Linked DNA regions of Homo sapiens: region 1 is linked to region 2. A link means that fine-mapping ties the variant in region 2 to the expression of a gene that starts in the linked region. Tissue or cell type: whole blood. Region 2 holds a variant in brackets; the other region holds the start of a gene. All regions are shown on one strand. Distances are between the middles of the regions.

Region 1 (2,500 bases), 27 kb before region 2:
CACTGCACTCCAGCCTGGGCAACAGAGCGAGACTCCGTCTGGGCGGGGAGGGGGGAGGGGGGAAGGAAAGATGTTCATAATTGGCACTTCTGGACCTCAGTTTGCCTGACAAATGGGCATGAGAGAGGTCGAGGCCTTCTTTCCATGGTTTCTCACTCTTTCTGGGTCCCATAGGTAATGATCCCGCATCAGGTCTACAGGGTGTCACAGAAGTGGGCTCAGGGAAACCCACTCCCAGGAGGGAGAAGGGACCTAAGTCTGGAGGGGTGAGTCACCCTCAAAGATGGGGAGAGAGGAAGGGCAGAGGCAAATACATGCAGAGAGAGGGAGAGAGGCTGGGGCAGGGAGACAGCAGGGAGGAGAGGGGACGCCAGGGCTTGGAAGGTGTTCACAGGAGCCTCTCCCTCCTGGGACCCAGGATTCAGGCTTCCTTCCAGTTAGTTCACTTTCAGGGGGCCCCTCCCGGAGAATGACGCGGAAACACGGGGTTTTCAGGTCAGGACAGGAGAGAGGGAGGGAGGGAACTGACCCCACCCCACTCCTGAGCCCCAGCCTCGCCCTGCCCTGGGAGATCCTTGACCTGCCTCGACCTCCGGACCCTCCGGACCTCCAGCTGCAGCCTCCCCTGTCCCGGTGGCTCAGCTCACAGCCTCTCGCTAGACTCCAGACACCCACCTGCCCGCAGCACGCCTCTCACACTCACCTTTCCCACGTCGCACTCCCTCCCTTACGCTCCCCCGTCACGCTGGCCACGCTCTCCCTTCGCACACACCGCACCCCACGACGCCCGCGCCCCCACCCTCGCACAGCCTCCAGCAACACCCTGCCACCCTCCCCTCCGCGCAGCGCAAGCACCCTGCATGCCAGCAACTCCGCACCCTCGCGCGCAGCACCTGGGCCCGCACGCAGCACCCTCACCCAACACCCTCCATTTCCCGCGCTCACCGAGATCCCCCACCTGCTCCCACGCCGCTGTCGCCCTCCCGCGCACCCCTTCCCGCCCTCCTCACCCCTCTCCTCTCCAGCTTTCGCACCCCGCACCGTTCCCCCACCGTGCCGTCCCCCCGATTGTCTCCGGGCCTCTCCTCCGTCTCCCCCTCCCCTCCCCGGCCCCGCCCCGGCCTCGGCGCCCCGCCCCCGGGCGGGCAGGGGGCGGGGCGCGGGGGGCGGGGCGGGCGGCGCGGGCGGTGCAGGTGCCGGGCCGGGAGCGAGCGGCGGCGGCGGCGGCGGCGGCACCATGGGCCGGGCCCGGCGCTTCCAGTGGCCGCTGCTGCTGCTGTGGGCGGCCGCGGCGGGGCCAGGTAGGGTCGGGGGCCGGGGTCGGCCGGCCGGGCTGGGGCGGGGGGCGCGCTGTGGTGACAGCCCGGCAGCCTCGGGGCCGCAGAGGCCGAACAATGCGCGCGGGGCCGGGCCGGGCCCCCTCCCCGGGACAAAGCGCAGCGCGGGCCGGGAGCCGGGAGCGACGAGCGGGGGAGGGGGCGCGGGGCCCGGCCGCCGTGCCGCAGCCCCCCCACCCGCGCAGGCTGGATCCCGGCGGGGACAAAGGGCCCGAGACCCCCCTACACACACAAGTCCGCCCTCCCCAGGCCGGTCCCGCTGTCCTTCTGTCCAGTCTCTGCGTCCCTCTGTCCGCCCGTCTCTGAACCCCCCCGTCTGGCTCCTCGTCCCCCTACCCTTGTCCTCTATCCCTCAGTCTCGAAGTCCTGTCCCTCCTTCTGTCTGTCTCCCTCTCTTCTTGCCTCGGTGTTCCTCATCTATTCTGTCTTTGTCCCCTACCTCTGTCCCCTGGTCTCTGTCCCCTTTTCCTGGGTCACTCTGTCCCCTCCATCATCCTGTCTATTCTCTTTCCCCCGGATTTCTGCCCTCCCTCTCTGCCCCTATTCTTGGTCCCTGTCTCTGTCTCGCTGTCACCCTTGTTTTTCTGTCCCTTTTTCTCTGTCCCCTATCTGCCCCATCCCCTTGTCTCTGTCCCCTGTCTTTCTGTCACTCGTTTCTCTAACCCTTTCTGTCACCTGTCTCTTTCCCCCTTCTCTGTCCCACTATCTCCATCCCTGTCTTTCTGCTGTGCCTCCTCTCTCTACGCTTACAGCCTCCATCCCGGGATCTCCCATTCCCATCCTACCTTCCTCCCTCTCTCTATCCCTCTGTGCCCCTGAAGAGGAATTCAGTCAGGCAGGGCATTCTAAAGAGCCCTGGAGGGGAACATCTGTGTGCATGTGTGTGGGGAAGTGAGAATGGGGGACCTTGGCGTGTAGGCACACACGTGGATTCAGCGAATGCCTCTCCAAACCCTGCTCACCCATTCACACACCCAGGCTTGACTCACAGAGAAGCCCCTGTCCAGGACATCCAGGGAGCCATCCACATACCCTCATCACACACTGTGAGAAGCTGGAGACCCCCGAGGTTGGGTGACCCTGAGAATGGGGACAAGGTCAGGAAATGTCACCCACACACACTCTCACACTGTGTAAGTCTTGAACCTGCCACGGGTCACCCC
Region 2 (2,993 bases):
GCCAGCTGAGACTGGGGGCTACGCCAGCTTGGAAGAAGATGATGAAGACCTTTCCCCAGGTAAGGTGGCCTTAGAGGTGGTGGCGTCGGCTTGACTGTCATCCTGGCTTAGGGTTTGGCCCCCACTGGGAAATGTTGATGGGGAGTGGCTGCTTGTCTTGCTAGGGGTTCTATTCTGACTGAGACTGCTTGTCCTAGTAGGGGATCTCTTCCAGTCGGGACTTCTGGGGACTGTAGATTGACTGGGGTCGCTCTCCTTGCTAGAGGTTCTAGATTGGCTATGATTTCCTTCTTTGCTGGGGGTTCTAGATCGGCTATGAGCTTTCTCCTTGCTGGAGGCTCTAGGTCGACTGTAACCACTCTGCTTATTGGGGCTTCTAGATCGGCTGTGATCTCTCTCCTCGCTGGAGCTTCTAGATTGTCTGCGCTCTCTCTCCTTGCTGGGGCTTCTCCATCGTCTGCGATCTCTCTCTTTGCTGGGGCTTCTGGATTGTCTGTGCTCTCTCTCCTCGCTGGGGCTTCTAGATTGGCTGCGATCTCTCTCCTTGTTGGGGCTTCTAGATTGTCTGCGCTGTCTCTCCTTGCTGGGGCTTCTAGATCGTCTGTGATCTCTCTCTTTGCTGGAGCTTCTAGATTGTCTGCACTGTCTCTCCTTGCTGGGGCTTCTAGATCGTCTGTGATCTCTCTCTTTGCTGGGGCTTCCAAGTTGGCTGTGATCTCTTTCCTTGCTGGGGCTTCTAGATCGGCTGCGATCTCTCGCCTTGTTGGGACTTCTAGATCGGCTATGATCTCTTGCCTTGTTGGGACTTCTAGATCGGCTGCGATCTCTCGCCTTGTAGGGACTTCTAGATCGGCTGCAATCTCTCGCCTTGTTGGGACTTCTAGATCGGCTGCGATCTCTCGCCTTGTAGGGACTTCTAGATCGGCTGCGATCTCTCGCCTTGTTGGGACTTCTAGATCGGCTGTGATCTCTCTGCTTGTTGGGGCTTCCTGATTGACTGCGACCACTCTCCTTCCTGGGGCTGCTAGATCCCCTGTGATCTCTCTCTTTGCTGGAGCTTCTGGAATGGCTATGACTTCTTTCCTTGCTGGGGTTTCTAGACCAGTTGTGACTTCTTCCTCTTCTGGGGGTTCTAGATTGGTTTTGACTTTTCCCCTTGCTGTGGCTTCTAGACTGGCTGTGTCTTCCCATCTGGCTCAGAATTCCCTTCCGGGTGCGACTTCTTGCCCTGCTATGGTTTCTCTTCCAACTGTGACTTCTCACTCTGCTGTGCGTCCTCTTCTGACTGCCACTTCTTGACCTTCTGGGGCTTCTAGATTGGCTGTGACTTTGCGGCCTGCTGCGGGTGCTGGCCTGGTTATAACTCTTGACCCTGCTGGACATTTCA[G/A]TGGGGCTGTAACTCTTTTCCCTACTGGGGATGATCATCTGACCGTAGCTCTTCACCTTCCTTGATGAGGATGGAGATGGGTTGTCACTCTTCTCCTTGGAGGGAATTCCAGTCGGGGTTTGACACTTGGCTGTACTGGGAGTTACAGCCAGCTCGGAACTCCTCCCTATACCTGAGCCTCCTGGTGGGCGGTAACTCTTCTTGCTCAGATTTCTAGGCTGGCTGTCACTCCTTTCCCTGTTGCTGGTTCTAGGCCGGCCGTAACTCTTTCCCCGGCTCCCTTTTTGCTGTGAAGTGGGAGTTCTCACCCTGCTGGCCATGCCTGGTCTGGCACCATGAGTTCTTATCCTGCCAGGAGTGCTGGCCCTGCTGGGTGACCTCTTGGAGCTGCGGCTTCCCCTTCTGCCAGGTGTCCTACCCCGGCTGTGTGTGCCCCTCCGCTGGTGGCATCTCACGTCGCTGGCCTTGCTGGCTTTGCTGGTCCTGGTGTCGGTGCTCACCCTGCTGGGTGTTCTTGCTTTGCTGCGGACTCGGGACCTGCTGCTGGGCCGGTTAGAAGGGGCTCTTTTTGTACTGGTCGATTTGGTGGACTTGGAACTGCTTGGGCTCATGACTGAGTTACGGGATGTCGCTGGTTTGGTGGGCACTAAGGATCTGTTGGGTGTTGCTGATTTGGTGGACTTCAAGGAGGCAGGAGGCTTGGGATCCGCAGTGGGCATGGAGGATCCACTGGGTGCCAGAGACATACTGGGCTTTGAAGATCTCTTAGGTGAAGACATGGTGGGCGCAAAAGGGCTTGTGGTCCTGGAAGTCACAGTAGACATGAAACACCTGGTAGCCGTGGACGATGACCTGATTGCCTGTCACAGGCCAACTGTGTGAAGTAATAGTGGGCATTGAAGACTCTGGAGGGTGAGTGGTATGAAGTCAGAGGTGGGAGGAGAGAGGGGAGGGGTCCCAGCCTGAGGCTGGAGATATTTCCTCTGGTTTGCAGCCATTCAGCAGATGTCTTCTGAGGCTGACTCATGCCCAGCATTGCTGGGGACACAGAGATGGGGCAGACCCAGGCCCTGCCTTCAAGGAGCCCATAGTCAGTGGGTGGGGAGGGGGGCCACTGCCCAGAGTGGTCAGGGTGTGATGGAGAGCAGTGCAGGGGCCGGGGAGCCCATACGAGAGAGACACTGACCGCTTGGGGAGTCAGCGAGGACTTCACAGAGGAGGTGACATGAGCTTGGCTTTAAAAAGGAGCAGGAGTTTTGCCAGTAGAGAAAGAAAGGGTCAGGCTGGGCGCGGTGGCTCACACCTGTAATCCCAGCACTTTGGGAGGCTGAGGCAGGCAGATCACCTGAGGTCAGGAGTTCAAGACCAGCCTAACCAACAAGGTGAAACCCCATCTCTACCAAAAATATAAAAATTAGCCAGGTGTGATAGCACACGCTTGTAATCCCAGCTACTTGGGAGGCTGAGGTGGGAGGATCGCTTGAACCTTGGAGGCGGAGGTTGCAGTGAGCCAAGATCACGCCATTGCACGCCAGCCTGGGTGACAGCGAGACTCTCTCTCGAAAAAAAAAAAAATGAACGGGTCAACCAGGTGGGCGAGGAGCAG

What was found. PIP is the estimated chance that this variant, and not a neighbour inherited with it, causes the effect.
Region 1: CADM4 starts here. The variant in region 2 is the best candidate, but not a certain one, in a credible set for the expression of CADM4 in whole blood (INTERVAL, PIP 0.71).

Annotation. Positions count from the first base shown.
Region 1 is chr19:43,638,528-43,641,027 of GRCh38, reverse strand. It overlaps CADM4 (cell adhesion molecule 4), which reads left to right and starts at 1,178. Exons shown (of 9, transcript NM_145296.2): 1 at 1,178-1,301. The coding sequence starts at 1,238. RefSeq lists a silencer at 1,155-1,294.
Region 2 is chr19:43,611,295-43,614,287 of GRCh38, reverse strand. It overlaps ZNF428 (zinc finger protein 428), which reads left to right. Exons shown (of 3, transcript NM_182498.4): 2 at 1-59. It overlaps SRRM5 (serine/arginine repetitive matrix 5), which reads right to left and starts at 2,200. Exons shown (of 1, transcript NM_001145641.2): 1 at 1-2,200. The coding sequence starts at 2,166. The coding sequence ends at 19. The variant G/A (reference allele first, on the strand shown) is at 1,388.